Linked DNA regions of Homo sapiens: region 2 is linked to region 1. Evidence: fine-mapped expression QTL. Tissue or cell type: monocytes. Region 1 holds a variant in brackets; the other region holds the start of a gene. All regions are shown on one strand. Distances are from middle to middle.

Region 1 (8,351 bases):
GTTGTTTTCATGTTTTAGCTACTGAGAATAGTGCCTTCATGAACAATCACTTACAAGTACTTGTTTGATTACCTGCTTCCAATTCTTTTTCCACCTATGGGTGGAATTGCTGGGTCATTTGGTAATTCTATGTTTAACTTTTTGAGGAGCTGCCAAACTGTTTTCCACAGCAGCTGTGTCATTTTACGTTCCTACCTGCAGTGTGTGAGGGTTCCAATTTCTCCACATCCTCACCAACACTTTCTCAAAAAAAATTATAAACATTCTAGTGGGCACAAAGTGGTATCTTGTTGTGGTTTTGATTTGTACTTCCCTGCTGACCAGTGATGTTGGGCATCTTTTTATATGTTTGTGTGCAATTTGTATGTATATCTTCTTTGGAGAAATATCTATCAAGTTTTTGCAGATTTTTTTATTTTCCAAACAATATTCAAGATTGTTAAACAAAATTTTAAAGTATTATAAAATGTTTAATTTTCATTAGCTTTAAGGTTTATGTTACCCCCAAATTTTGTATATAACTGAAGTTTCAAATCTACTAACACTCACTGAATTGATACCACTCTGGATTCTAAGGCATCAGTTTCTTCTTACCAATTTTTCTTTGCTTCTTCTAACATTTCTTGTGTTTCATCTTGAGAATGGCTAATGAAAACATCACCAATTTGATAAGGTATCATTAAGCAGTCATCATCTGCAAGCATGATGTCATTGCAAACAACTTCTAAATTGTGGAGTTGTTTCCTTTTAACTTCTGTTTCTTCCTTCAGCTCTGTGATTCTACTCATATTCCTTGCAAATTTGTTTACCTAATGTTGATCTTCAAAAGTAGCGTTGAAATTTTCTGCAGCCTGTAAACAACAGCACTAGTAGCACCTACCTGTGGACTTGTGAGGGCTGATGTGATAACCCAGGTAAAGTGCATGTATTAGTCCATTCTCACACTGCTATAAAGAACTGCCCGGCCGGGTGCAGTGGCTCACACCTGTAATCCCAGCCCTTTAGGAGGCCGAGGTGGGCAGATCACGAGGTCAGGAGTTTGAAACTAGCCTGGCCAACATGGTGAAACGCTGTCTCTACTAAAAATACAAAAATTAGCCGGGCATGGTGGTGCATGCCTGTAATCCCAGCTACTCGGGAGGCTGAGGCAGGAGAATCACTTGAACCTGGGAGGTGGAGGTTGCAGTGAGCCGAGATCGTGCCATTGCACTCCAGCCTGGGCAATAGAGTGAGACTGCGTCTCAAAAAAAAAAAAAAAAAAATAGCCCAAGACTGGGTAATTTATAAAGAAGAGAGGTTTAATTGACTCAGCTCTGCATGACTGAGAAGGCCTCAGGAAACTTACAATCATGGCAGAAGGAGAAGCAGGCACATCTTACATGGCAACAGGTGAGAGTGCATGTGAAGGAAGCAAAGGGGGAAGAGCCCCTTATAAAAGCATCAGATCTCGTGAGAACTCATTCACTATCATCAGAACAGCAGCATGGAGGAACCACCCCCACGATTCAATCACCTCCCACCAGGTCTCTCCCTCAACACCTGGGGATTACAGGGATTACAGTTCAAGAGGAGACTTGGGTGGGGACACAAATCCAAACCGTATCAGTGCATCAAGTGCGTAAAAGCCAACCTCAGTCAATGGGACCTTCAGTTTCCCATACCCTAAGGACAAGGCCTGGGCTGCAGGGTCCTCATGCTCCCCAGAGGCACCCTCAGTACTGAGAGAGGTGCCCAGAGCCCTCCATGGATTCCGGCCTGGGGACCCCCTGCCTCAACAAGCCAGGTGACTAAGCAAATGCTCAGGGCCCTAGGTGCAGACAGGGCTCCCCACAGAGCAGCTGTAAGGGCTGGGGGCCTCAGTCTTGGGCCCCACACTGAGCTTCAGAGCTGGGCACCCCCAGCATCCCACACCCTCCACTCCCCTGCTATAGCTGAGACCTGGCCACTGACCAAGAATCCTGCCCATTTTTAAATCTGTTTTGTTGTTGTTGAGTTGTAAGAGTTCTTTATAAATAGCGGATACTAGAGCATTATCAAATATGTGATTTGCAAGTACTTCCTCCCATGCTGTGAGTTGTCTTTTCACTTTCTTGATAATGGCCTTTGAAGCACAAAAGTTTTTAATTTTGATGAAGTGTCATTTATCTATCTTTTCTTTTGTTGCTTGTGCTTTTAGTGTTATATCTAAGAATCTATTGCCAAGCTCAAGGTCATGATTTCCACATTTTTGCCTAAGAATTTTATAGTTTTAGCTGTTACATTTAGGGCTTTGAAACATTTTGATTTAATTTTTATATCTAGTATAAGTTAGGGGCTCAGTTTCATTCTTTTTCATGTGGATATCCAGTTTTCCCAGCACATCTGTTGAAGACACTGCTCTTTCCCTACTTTATGATCCTAGCAACCTTGTCAAAAATCAATTAACTGCAGATATATAGATTTGTTTCTGCGTTCTTAATTTCACTGTTATCTTTGATCTCCTGAGGAAAAAATGGGTTTGCTGATGGTCTGTCTTGATAGCGGCAATAATGGCCCCTAACCCTCTGCAAAGTGCTTTTGCACAGTTAATCTTCACTATTACTACTTTGTGAGGTAGGTATTACTGTCTCTGTTTAACAGGTGAGGAAACAGGCCAAGAGGGGTCAAGTGACTTGCCCAGAGCTGAGTAGCAGAACTGGGACTGGAGCCCAGATTTGCCAAATGCCAGAGCCTTTGCTCTTTCTATTTCATCCCAGCTGCCCCTGACTAACATTTGGGTAGCCCTTTCTGGTTCTATGAGTGTTTTAACATATATTACCTCCTTTGTTTAGTTGATTTAATTAAAAAATTAAAAGCAAGTTGTTTCCACCTGTTGGGAGCTTCTTTGACAGTACGGAAGGAGAGCAAGGGAAGTACCGAGCATTATCAAATGTGAATCCCGGGAACTCTATCAAGGACCAGGGCAGAAAAAAAATGAAAGCAAAGATCTGGGGAGAAGATCTTTGATTCATGAGATTAGAGAACCAGTGGGGGCACAGATAAGGATACCAAGGAGGAATCATTGCCTAGATCACTCTATTAAAATAAGACCATGGTGTAAAAAGTCCAGGAACATCATTCAGGTGAGCCTAAGTACAATCCTTGGCCTACATCCAAGTGTGGTTGGTGACTTGTGATGTGCCTCTCCCTGAGTAGAGTCCCCGGGGTCTGCAGGGAGGCCCGGGGGTGCTGGCTGATGAAAGCCGTTTGCAGAGAGTGAGGACAGGAGCCGAGGGCTGTGAGCTGGCAGTCTTCAATGGAATCAGCTAGGAACCACCATTTCCAAAGTTGTGGGATCCTGAAAGGAACCCTGACAAGAGGTGCTTGGTGAAAAAGATCTTAAAGAAATGTTTGAAGAAGTGCTTGTTGACCAAAGATATGAGGATTTGAGATGAATTTTTAAAAAGTGAATATATCTTTCCATTTTCTCCTAATTGGTATCGCTGGTTTAGAGTAAACTGGAGAGGGAAAAAAAGTAGCATTCTTTCCAAAGTCCACAATCATTGTCTCAGAATAGACTCAGTTTTGTCCAGGCAAGATTGCTTTCACCATTTGCTGTGCTACCTAGTAACCTTTTGTGTTACTGGAGCTCGGAATGCTACTGATCAATAATGGGGGGGCAGGGCGGGCGTCTCACAACGTAAGCCCCAGAATTCTAACAGAAATACACATACACACACACACACACAAACACACACTCCTATACGTGCACACAAATAGAAACAGGGCCCAAATTTATTGTAAAATCAGATTTATTGATTTAAAATATAACCAGACCACTATTTTGGCCCATCTCTTTTGCCCCATCCCTGACTAAGTCTTCACTCCATTCCCCATTTCCTCTTCTTCCTTCTCTTGCTGGCTTGTCCATTTTCTCTATATCCTCTACCCCTGACTGTCTTCTCTTCAGAGACTTTCCTATACCCATTTAATCTTACTCTCATGTTTCTTCTGTGCTGCCTTCTCTAAATAGTCAACTTCCTTTCAAATATTGTCTAGACCCTTGGCCTTGCTGAACACACAAAAACTTTTATATAGTTTACATTGTATGATTGTTTCTCCACAGTTAGGCTTAATTTATTTAGATAGAAGAGCTGGTTTCATTTTGC[G/A]AGAGCTGGAGGGTGTGTTTTTAATTGACAGTATGCCAAGGGAACATGATTTCTGGTACTTCCCCAGAGACAGAATTTCTTTAAAGAATTCTGGGGGAGAGGTAAGGGCATTTCTGAGTAAATGTAAAGCAAGCCAGCCCTTGGAATGGTCAAGATCTCAGCCCTCTTTCACACATTAAAGAGGCTGACAAACATTTATCTGGCTGTCTGTGAGCTGTATTATGACTGAGGTTTGTAGCTCTTCAAACCTCCTAGAGATGTAAACAGTAACCCACTCCAAGGAAGAGAGCAACAGAACTGTGTTGAAACTTGCTGGAAGGGAGTTTCCCCCTGCCAACACCCTAACATGGTTGCCTTTGTGACTGCCAAAGCCTGCCTACACATTTTCATCACTTGAGAGGAAGCTTCTGCTTCTCTGTTAATGTGCTGTAGCTATGTTCCAAAAGGAAGACACATTGATTTTTCAGACAGCTCTCAATTATACACATGAATGGGGGAGGTATCAATGACATAGAAGATGGAAAAATCATTTACCCCACACCTTGATCCATGTGGCACAAAGCACAGTCCTACTTGGGAACTAATGAGTAGTGGTAACTTCCTTTAGCAGTGCTTTGGCTCTGATGAGAGCAGGGCCTCCATTCTGGACAAGGTTAGCTTTAACCCTTGAAGGGCTACACACACCACCATGTTGTGAAAAGGATATAAAATTATGTCTGCATCGTTTTATTTGCAAAAAAAAAAAAGGTGGGGGGATCAATATATTTTTCTTGGTCTTTCATGGCTTCTGTGCACTGCTAGGATTTTGCCTCTACTCTACAGGGCTGATGAGAAATCAATACCCTTCATGTCTTCAGGAGACCCCCTTAGCAAGGTTGGGATCTCTAAGAATCCTTACAACTTTTACAAATTCTTTGTGATTGAACACACTCTGTCACAGCAAGAACACTAGCTGGTTCGGCCTTCTCTATTTGATGTTTTGCATTTTGAGTCTTATTTTTTCTTTTTAATTCTTGTTTTTAAAAATCACACAAATGATTTCAACTTTTCTATAGGTTTAAATTTTTCAAGTTAAAAAGTTTGGGGAAAATGACACAATACAAATTAGTTGTAAACATTTTGACATATATAGTAGAAAGTTAAGAATCCCTATATACCTCCTAATTCTACTCTGCTCCCCAGAGATAAACCACAGTTAATAGTTTGCTATGCATCCTTCCAGGTTAATTTCTTTGCATTTACAAACATACATACATGTATAATTTTGGGGGTCTTTTTTTAAAACATAAATTGGGATCATGTTATATTAATGTAACATAATGGCTTTTAAAACATAAAAATATATCCTGGACAACCTTCTCTAAATAGGTCCACATCATTGTTTATCAATAGCTGCATGGTATTCCATAGTATAGATGTACTAAGTTTATTTAACCATTCTCCTAGTGATGACTGTTTATGTTGTTTCTAATTTGTGTTTTTCTACAGAACCCAACTCTCCCAGCACTGAACTGTTCTGTTGAAAATACCCATCCAACAGTTTCTTACTATGCTCATCCCCAAGTGGCATCCTACAATACCTACTACCATAGCCCTCCTCACCTGCCACCATATTCTGCTTATGACTTTCAGGTATGTTTTGGGAGAAAAAAGAACTCTGTATTACCCTTGTTCTCACTCATGCTCTCTTGTTCTCTCCCTAAATTCAATTATGGAACCTTTCCATTGTCTGCATATGTATGAGGTAGCCATGCATCTCCCTAATGGCCAGCAGCCTGTGGTTGCCAGCTTAAGGACTATGTAGGCAGGCAACGATGGCAGAGATGGGCGGGTGGAAGCTGCGCAAGAGAAGAAACAGAGAGATGGAAGAAAAAGGGAGAGAGGGAGGTAGGATCAAGGTATCCCAAATTGCCTTAAACTACACCAAGGAGAAGATAAGCTAGTTGGGAAATGGCAGCTCATTAGTACACTACCATGGACCCCTGTGCAACAGTGGCTTTTTCCATTCCCCTGATATGGGGAGAGGCCTAATCCTGCTCCTTAACACAAGGGCATTCTGAGCCACACAAGGGTTTGAATCAAACCTGTAATGAGGAAGAAGTCCCATTCTTTTTCTCCAGGCCTCCTAACTAGGACTACACAGAGCAATACACAGAGTATTTTTATAACACCCCTCCCCCTTTTGCCCTGTTATCACGTAAGTCAGAAATAGTGTTAACAAATTTGCACTTTCCCCTTTTCCTTTTGAACTGTGACTACTAGTAGAAAACCAGACCCAAAAAAGGCACTTACTTAAAAGGAATTCATTGCATGCAGAACACTGAACTAGACACTTTGGGCAAACAAGTGAAATGGTCCTTTAGGTATGTATAACGATTATAAACCCTTGACCATAGAAGAGCAAGGTTACACTAAAATCTAGTTAATTCAAACTTTAGAGACCAAAGGAAATACCTTTTAAGGAAGGGAAACTCATAATAAATTTGCTTCTATTGATCAAGAGACCATGAATGTTCCATGGGGACATAAAAGTACAACTATCTGGGGGTACTTCCAACTAACCAGCCAGTTTGGCAATACAAAGCCCTTGGGCAACCTAATTTCAACTTCAGTTTGGCAAAATAACTGAAACTTAAAAATCTGATTAAGTTGAATAAAGTGTTGTTGTGGTTGGTTTAGATACCGTTCAGAGAGGTCTGTGGCTCCATAATGCAATAATAATACATATAGTGTGCACATGTACTTGTTCACTTTTATAAAATATAGTACTAGTTCAAAAAGGTATCCATTAACCCATTGATGCCAGAGGTTGCAAATTTTTTTGTGAAAAATCAGACCTTGGCGATGACCTTGAGCAGGAGGATATAAATAACTCCCACAAGCTTAGCGTTCCAATAATGGGACACTAGGCATAAATGGGTTAAAGCTTAGAAAATATAATGATAAAATTCGTTCTAAAGCCTACTGTGTACACAGGTAGACAACTCAGGTAACTTGTTACCCAAATAGGTGGTATAGACTGGAAAACAAAAATATGTTCAAGAAGGGCATAGATAATTTCAATAGTGACCGAGGCAACAAGGAATTCTTCAAGAGAATGCAGGGATGTTGAAGCTAAAACAAGGAAGGTCATCATTCTCTTGGGGTCCCTATAATAAAAAGTCATCCTTAAATAGAGGAGCCACACATGGGTCTAGCCCAAGAGGCCTCCTCTACTTTTATATCAAAGTAAATTACATTGATTTCAGGAATTTGCACTTTATAATGAACCCTTTAAGTAGGGACAATAATACATCTGGTGATGGTTACCACAAATTATAAGATAGGAAACCTCTCTTTTGGGTATGGAGCCATCATTCCTCATTCAAATCCTACCCCAGAAATGAAAGCAAGATTGAGAATGCCAACGGTGACTTGGATTGTTGGTTTCAGTTCAATCAATGTTTACTCTGTGTTCCATGTGCCACGCATTGAGCCAGGAGCTGTGGAAATAGAAATTAAATGAGACAGTCCCTGCGTTAGTCTAGGGACTTGGGGGTGGGGGGTCAGGGGACAGTAGTGGGGACAAAAAAGTAAAGAAAACATTACCCAGAATGCTATGGAAACAGCATACCTAACCCAGAAAAGGGATCCAGATTTAGCTACCTAGTCCAAACCTATACTATGGGCTTGTAGCAGAGACTTTGGGGATTGTTAGAAGCCTCTCCTTTTTTTTTTTTTTTGAGACAGAGTCTTGCCCTGTCGCTCAGGCTGGAGTGCAATGGCACAATCTTGGCTCACTGCAACCTCCACCTCCTGGGGTCAAGCGATTCTCCTGCCTCAGCCTCCCGAGTAGCTGGGATTACAGGTGCGTGCCACCATGCCCGGCTATTTTTTTTTTTTTTTTTGTATCTTTTGTAGAGACAGGGTTTCACCATGTTGGCCAGGCTGGTCTCAAACTCCTGACCTCGTGATTCACCCGCCTCGGCCTCCCAAAGTGCTGGGATTACAGGCATGAGCCACCGTGCCTGGCCCACCCTTACTTTTTAATAACAGCTACTATTCACTGAGTACTTACTATGTACTAAGCATTGTGCTAAGTGCTTTACATATATCATCATTCAATCATTTACCTCTTTAAGAGAAGTACTCTTGCAATTGCCATTTTTAAGATAAGATGACTGAATCATGGAGAGATTAAGTGACTTCACCAAAGTCACAGAGGTGGTAAGTGAAAGAGTAAGG
Region 2 (8,000 bases), 41 kb before region 1:
TCTGGCATTTTTCTACTGGTCTGAAGGCTTCTGGGGAGGGCGCTCATCACTGGTTTGAAGAAGATGGAGAGAAGTAGGCTGCAGCCCCATTGGTAAACATTTCCTGATGCTATAAAGCAGTTTGCAACCTAGGGCAACACTGTATGCTTGATTAAGCTTGCTATGAAAAGGATTTATTTTAAGGCATTTTAATAATTTCTTTTTTTTATCAAAAGCTAACCAAGCAGTTTTATAGTAGCCTTCACTTGCATGAAAGACCTGTTTCTTCATCTAGATGGCTTGCCTATTGGTAAGTTTTATTATAAACCTATTTATGTATAAACTCCACATGTGTTTTGACATGAAGAAAATCAGAATGGAGCCCAGGAAACATTGCCTCTTGCTTTTTAATCATCCTGTTCAATTTGAGTTAAAATAAACTTTTTTTTGGAGGAAAAGAGGTGTATGTACTGGGCTTAGTTAAAATGTAGGGGGTTTTCCCCCCAGTTCCCATTCTAGTCCCTCCCCTTTTCCCGATCCTCTCTCCAGACAAATACACCATCTCTGGGGAGAAGACTGCTACTACTCTCCAAGCTGCTGCAGCTGCTGCTATTGTCACTGCTACTGGTCTCAAAGTCATTTTTAACTTGACTGAGTGCGTGCTGTGCTCCAAGTCCCACAAGGCACCCCAAGAGACAGCACAAAAGAAACATACCATATGCAGTTCTTTTAAATAGCCAGCTCCTCTAGTACTTTATAAAATAATGTTCAATTTCAAGCAGGATTCAGGAATACAGATGTTGAGAAAGCAAACCTCACTCCCATTAAAGGTACCTCACTAGTTTGTGTCTTTGGGATTATAAAGGTCAAATTACATATGCCCTCTGCATCATTTGGTGGGTAGTGTGTTTCTCTCTGAATTGAAAAGCCCTCAATCTGTCCATCAAAACCAGCATGGTAACAAGTTTCTATTTGGCTTCTTTAGGGATCTCTTGCTGTGTGATTGCTATAGGGGAGCCAAGAATCTCTAAAGAAGGTGTCATATAGTCTTTAGAGCCTGTATAAAAACCTCTTTTCTTTCAGGCTACTTTCACAGAAACGAAATATGTTAATTAGCAAGCACTCCTGAGAAATCAGTGCTGGTTGCAGGAGTCCTCCACATTAAGTATGAGATATTTAGAATGAGAGGAGAAAGAGATAAGTAAACAGGACTCAAAGACAATCATTGCAGAAGTATAAATACAGGATTTCTCTCTGCCTTTGTGGAGCTTATAGAGACCCTGACACAAGCTAAGCAGGCTTAAGACACACACATCTACAATAGTAGGCATCTTGTCTCTATCTAGGACATATATCACAGATTTCTAAACCACATGTATAGTGTAGGGTTGCTAATAATACCTGACACAGCATTCAACGTGGCCCCTGGGGTGCCCAAGTTCTTTACAAAGGGCTTCCTTTTTAATCTTCAAGAAACATATTTTCTTCCTTCAGAAGATGGGAAAGGGCAAGGGCCTTCAGTCCCATTTCCTGGATAAGAAAAACAAAGCTTTACAGTAGATTAGCAAGGCAGATCTGGAAAGAGCCAAGTACTCTTCTTCATCCCATTGACTCTTAGAATAGTTTTATACTTGATTTGGTTTGGGTTTTTCGGGGAACATGGAGAAAGGATTGCAGCAACCATCAGAAGGAGGTGGTTGGAAGGAGACCTGGCAAGCAGAGCCTGGGAGCTCCTCAATGGGACAGTATGGGCACCTCCAAATAGGTATATTCTCTTAGCTATGTTAGGCTTCCAGGGCTGTTCCCAGAGGGAGGTGGAGTCCACTGTTACCCGCTTCCTCACCCTCCACCTCCCCTGGCCACCAGATAGATGTCTTGGGGGCACTCCAAGGAGGCCTCATCCTGATCTGCAGTTGTTTTGAGAACATTCAAACCACCTTTTGGTCCAACCACAAGGTGCTTCAAGCCCAATATCCTAATGGGGTCCAAAAGGATAGGTTCGAGAAGGATTTGGCTGTCTTCCAAGATCAATGACATTCCCACCTCATCCCCAGTTTCCCTTAGTAATCCACAGTGGATCTGTCAGCCATGACTTTACTTTCACTCTTTCCAAAGCTACTTGCATTTTCATCTTGCTGCATCTTTTGGAGCTAATGAATTCCTTAGGTTTTCCATTTGCTATAGAGAATAATAGTTCTTTTCAGTCGCCATAGCAAGAACACTCACCTTGGAGTCCAACAGATCTAGGTTCTAGCTCTCACTTCTGCCACTTACTAGCTGAGTGGGCACAGGATATTTTCTTCCCTTCTCTGAGATTCAGTTTCCTCCTCTGCATAATGGGGTTATTGATAACTCCTCTTCCTCCCTTGCATGGCTGCTATGATGATAAAATGAGATCCTTGTTATAAAAGCACTTGAACAGTACAAACTGGGGTTCTGGTGCAGAGTTATACTTTAGCTGAATTTTCTAGCTAAAGATTGGGGGCTGTTGGTTCTAGAATTCTCAGGTCTGGTGAATAAGGCTGTGCTCCTTCTCTCCGTCTCTGCATAATTTTATACACTCTGGTCACATCACTTCCCAGCCTTCATCGTTCTAGACTAAAGAGTCTGCGTTTGTTTAATCTATCTTCATATGTCAGCCACCACCCTCCCCCCGCCCCACACACACCATCCCTTTGATTATAGAGTGGCCCTTCTCTGGATCATCTCCAGCTCCATTATGTCATTCTGGAAGCACTAAGACCAGACCTGCTCAAGTGTGTGTGTGTGTGTGTGTGTGTGTGTGTGTGTTCCTCAGCTCTGAACCTCTGACTCTGACCCCCTCCCCAGTTATAAATCCTAGAACAGGATAATTACCCAAGACCCTGTCCAACTATAGAGAAGGTTGGTTGGCTTCATACTGAAGCCTCCCCCTCTTTCTCTGCGCAGCCCTGGCCCCAAGGGGCTAAAACTGCTCCCTGTCTGGCTTGGAAGGCTGGGAGGTGGATAACTAGGATGGGGAGACTGAGGGGGAGGGAGGAGGGGGGGGGTCTTGCGCAAGCGCACGCGGCTGCACGGACCGCCAATGCTGCTGCCTCCCAGAGCAGAGGGAGGCAGAAGAGGAGGGAGGGAGAAGAGTGGAAGGGAGGGGGAGGCGGCACTTGGGCTGCAGCTCGCAACCAGAGGCAGTGTCTCTCAGCTCTCGGAAGGACCGAGAGAGGCAACCGCGGAGTAGGATGCTCTGCGGGGCGCCCAGAGCCGGGGGCGCTTGAAGCAGCTTCGGGGACTGGGGCAACCGGGCAGTTTTCACCATGCATCAGTCCCTGACTCAGCAGCGGTCCAGCGACATGTCCCTGCCCGATTCCATGGGTAAGTCTAGCGGCCCTTCCTTCGGGCGGCGGCAGCAGGGGTTGAGTGCCCTGGCCTCTGGACTGTGAACGCCCCAGCTGCCCCAAAAGCCGGAGAGCGGGAAACGGGGCATGGATGGGGTGGTCTTCGCGCCCCAGCGTCTGGGTGGTGGACCAGAGTCCCAGGGGAGCGGCCTGGCTGCAGCGGGAGCGACGTGCGGAGATCGGAGCGCCAAGCTTGCGTCGGAGTATCTCTGCCCCGGAGTGCGGGTGTGTGCCTGTTTGTGTGCGTGTGTCTACAGACTTGCAGTCGGTGGTAAATCCCAGCAATCTGAGGATCAAAACACTTCCCTGCAACCTGCGCCTTCGCTTTCCATTCGACACTCCCTCTTTGCAAAGTCCTGGTCACTTCTAAGAGCTCACGACTAACGACAATTAGAAGCAGGGTCCTCGCCCCCTCCCAACTCTCTTGAAGCTGCCCTGAAATTTAGAGATGCAGTTGGGTGGGGGCCTGACTTGCACCTCGCTGATTGGGGGGGGGGGGCGGGTTGCGCAACTCTGGGGGATGGGCGGGGGTGAGAAGAAAGGGGGGGATGAGGGGAGGGGAATTCCTGAGGAATCACTCAAGACAGCCCAGCCCTGCCCTCTGCAGCGGCGGGATCAACATTCTTTGAATTTGATTGTTACTCTGCTCCAAATGCACGGAATGTGCATGAGTGTGAAAAGGGAGTCAGGGGCAGGAGTGAGAGCGCGAGAAAGAAACATCCAGCGCGAGCCCGCGCATCTTCTGAAGTCGCGCTTTTCCTCGCAGGGCGGAATGGAGGGGGAGGGGCACCCTTCGACTCCTTTCCTTATAGAAACTGGGGGACAGCTACCTTCGGGCACCAACTTGGCTGCCCCTCGAAGCTGCTTTTTGGTAGTTACAAAAAAAAACAAACCCAGTCCCCCTCAGCTGTTAGGCACCTTCCCAAGCCCTGTGATTTCACTGGGCGGAGAAATTAATTTGGAGCCCTGGAGAGCGGGAGGGGATTGTAAAATCATGATCCCACCTAATCTTTTAAAATTCGCCTCGGATACACTTCAATCAAATCGAATTCTCTCTTTCCAACATACTTTACATTCTGCAAAATCCCTCTGTCCCGCAGTTCCTGCCATCAGTCTGCTCAGGTCTTCTCCGATGAATTTGCGGGAACATCTCGAGTGGAGGGGGCAGGGAGAAGATCGAACCCCCTATATAATCTCCCTACTGCCCGCAGAAGACTCAGTGTCAACAAAACTCGTTCACCGGAGGGGCCCCAGAAAGTGTTATCTCCTGGATGGTGGAAAGATCCGTATCCTCAATGGTTTTGCATATTCAGTATAAGAATTTGCTTTTTCATTTTTAAGGGCGTAGTTATTTACAACGGGGTACAAATGAGGCCAAGGACTTGGTCCGAATCCCGAGCCCAGCAGTACCAGACTCCCCCTTACTCCCAGCTCGCGCGCGCGCACTCTTTCTCCAACACACACACCACGCGCACACACATACAGAGGGAGAGGGAGAGAGAGAGAGCGCGAGAGCGAGAGAGAGCGACAGCGAGAGCGAGAGAGAGAGAGACAGAGAGGTGGGAATGCACTGCTTACCTTGGCCAGCTGTGGCGCCAACAACGCAGCCCTGGCTCCCCGACGCCAAGCTGTTGCGCTTCGCGAGGGAGGGCAGAGTGGAAGAGTGCTGGGGTTCCGCAGCGTCCATTCCCGCTGCGGACGACAACCACCTAACCACCTGCAAATCAAGCCACAGCGCCCCGGGCCCGTCTGCCTTCGGGGAGTGGGCTGGTTGGTGGCCCAGGGCTTAAAGAGTCGCTACTTGGCGCACTGCTCTGTGGGTTGGGGAACAAGATGAAGAGCTTTCTTTCTTGGGCTCCCAGGGGCCCTCAGCGATCTTGTGTTTCTCGAAAGGTCTGCGCAACAAACAGCTGAGTGGGCTTCGCCCAGCCCAGTCTCCACACTGCGGGAAAGGAATCATAAATCCCAGATAGAAGCGGAGCCGGCGCCACGCATTCCACTTTTTGAAGTCCGCAGACCGACGGCACTGGCAAATTCCTGAGTCCAGTGCTAACGCTGGGTTTCCACAGTTTGGACAGGGGAGTCTCCCCGGAGTTCCCTGGCCCTGGTCCCGCACAGTCCGGGCCTGAATCAGCGTCTAGGCTACTTAGGAGCTACTCCCACTTAGCTCTGGCAACACCACCTTCCCTTGCGTGGGGGGAAGAGGACAGTGGGTAGGTAGGTTAGTGTTTCAGCCTCCAAGGGCAGCATTTCTGAGGGGACTCCCTTTATTGTCAAGACACAACCGCAACCAAAACAATAAAATTTAAAACACGCAGACACACTGCACCAAGGTGCCTGCACTCTACGCTTGCTGGCTGCCTGGGAATAGAGCAGTGCGTCCAAGGCTCAGAGTGGAGCAGGCGCTTTGCAATTAAGAAGATGGTAATTTGACTCCAGTGTCCCCCCATCCCCTCCCAGCAACCCCCTTCTCCCTTTTGGCAACACCGCCCCCAGGCGCAAAGGCACCTCTACTACAGTAGGGCATTCCTTCCTCCCAAATAACACATTTGTAATTCGCGGGCGGCCTCGGATGTTCTCCATTCAGAGAACTGTCTAAAGTGGGGAGGGATGGATTTCAGCGCCTTTAAGGAAATGTTTGGGAGATTGGCAGGGTCTTGAGGCCCTTGTGTGGGCAGCCACTTGTTTCTAGGGATACTCAAGGCTGGGATATCCGGGGACCCACCCTGTGTGGCAAAGCTGACTCAGGTAAGCAAATCCTAATCGGTTCAAAAGATCAACCCAGAGAACTAGCCAGGCATCAACAACACCGTGTACAGGACAGGATACTGGGTTCCCAACTTTTCTGTGCCCAATAAAGATTATACACCTTATCTACTCTCTTGGGAGAGGATAATCAAGAACGTGTGCAAGGTAAAACAAAGTAACAGAGACAGCATCCTACCTTCTAGCAACTCACATCTTGGTTCCCTCAGATACACAATCCTGGGACTGGCAGATATCATATGGGTTGTGGACCAGACCCACGGTTACAATTGTAATGGTACCAGTTACAATTAATATACTTATTGAGTAAGGTACCTGGGAATTTAGGGACATGAATAAGTGATTAATTTTGATCAAGAAAAACTTTTTGGAGGAGGGGAATTTTGAGCATGTTTCAAAGGAAGGGAGGCACCCAGGTTCAAAGACCGCAATGCAGATGGGGGCTCTGACCAGGGGGAATACCCGGATGAGAGAAAAGCTGGTTGTTTTTGGAAGGGTGGAGATAGCAAATAATTGGGTGCTTCTAGAGCTAAGCATCCTGGTCATCAGGAATCTGGGGTGGAGGTGGGGCACTGCAGAGAGGGAGGGCTGCAGTAGTTCTGCAGGGAGGCTGCTGAGGAGGGGCAGGCAAGGCCAATGAAAAGATTTCAGACTCTCTCACTGCTGTTGGTTGCAGAGGTGGTTGTTGTTTAAGCAGAAATATACTGGGTGCCAAGGAGACAGAGTAGTGAGAGATATTGTAGTTTTCACACTAGTTAGCCAGAAGGCTTTTAATTTGAGGGAACCCTCAGGTGTACCCTACATTAAAAAATCAATTCTATGAGACTAGCCCATATTTATTCACACAATTCCTCCCACATCCTTCTTGATTAAAAGGGAAACAATTCTGAGATGTTGCCTCTTGTTTATTCAACAAGTACCGATTGTTTATTAGGTATCAAACACTAGGTATAAATCGTAATAGGCATGATTTTCATATACCTGCTGCTTTATTTAAGTACCTCCTGGTGCCTGAGTTTTTTTACGTGTCACTTTACTAAACAAAATCAGAATAAGATGGTCCTGTGTTTACAGAAACATCTAAGGCAAGCCCCAAATTGTACCAGAATAAGAACACGGCTGTACTTCTCCCTTCTAAAATAAAACAACCACCAGGAAAATGTCCTAAGCAGACACAATAAACTGCCTTTTAGGAGCCTGGGCCACACCTTCAGAAAATGGGTATATCTTGCTCTAAGTAGATGTGAATTTTATTGAGTCGAATTGACACTAAAGATAAATTGAGGGGTGATTCTTCATTTTCAAAACGAGTCACCCTGGGAGGGGGTTTTCTTAAAACAGTCAATTCCCCAAGTGCAACTAGAAATAATTTCATGTTACACAATTATGGTCCTTATAAAATAAGTGGTGACAGGGAAGGACGCTCGTGAGGGGACAGAGATTAGATATTCGACCTGGTGATCAGAGAGTTTTCTTAGGAATTTTATCCAAAGCAAATCCTATCTGGAGTCAAGGCCCCTGTGGGGCTGTGGGATATTTGCCTGGGTTGCTCAAGTGACTGAATTTTCAATTCAGGTTCTAAAGCAGGAAAAAAGATTTTCAAATGACACTATGTGGTTTGCTGAGTCACTTTTCTGACCTGGCTCTTCCTGCGCTTTTAAAAGTTAGAGTGATATTTGCAAAGAAGACCCAAGAGCTGTGAATAAGATTAAAGGCCAGCTGGTGGGGAAGGAGCAGGCAAATGAAACAAACAAACAAACAAACCAAAATTAAAAAGACCATGCATGCACACACACTTCTCCAATTTAGTCTGTCAGGTTACATGTTTTCTGGGTAAGGTGTTGAGACACTTCCATATCACAAAGATATCCGTGGTGTATCCAA

Evidence for each region. PIP is the estimated chance that this variant, and not a neighbour inherited with it, causes the effect.
Region 2: it holds the start of TMEM255A, and the variant in region 1 is fine-mapped to the expression of TMEM255A in monocytes (TOPMed, PIP above 0.99). The same link has a PIP of 0.9 or more in esophagus mucosa.

What each region holds. Positions count from the first base shown.
Region 1 is chrX:120,265,652-120,274,002 of GRCh38, reverse strand. It overlaps TMEM255A (transmembrane protein 255A), which reads left to right. Exons shown (of 9, transcript NM_001104544.3): 8 at 5,616-5,759. It also overlaps the pseudogene PFDN4P3. Among named protein-coding and RNA genes, the nearest start is that of ZBTB33, 19 kb to the right of the region's middle. The variant G/A (reference allele first, on the strand shown) is at 4,128.
Region 2 is chrX:120,306,579-120,314,578 of GRCh38, reverse strand. It overlaps TMEM255A (transmembrane protein 255A), which reads left to right and starts at 3,118. Exons shown (of 9, transcript NM_001104544.3): 1 at 3,118-3,327. The coding sequence starts at 3,270. RefSeq lists an enhancer at 5,102-5,151.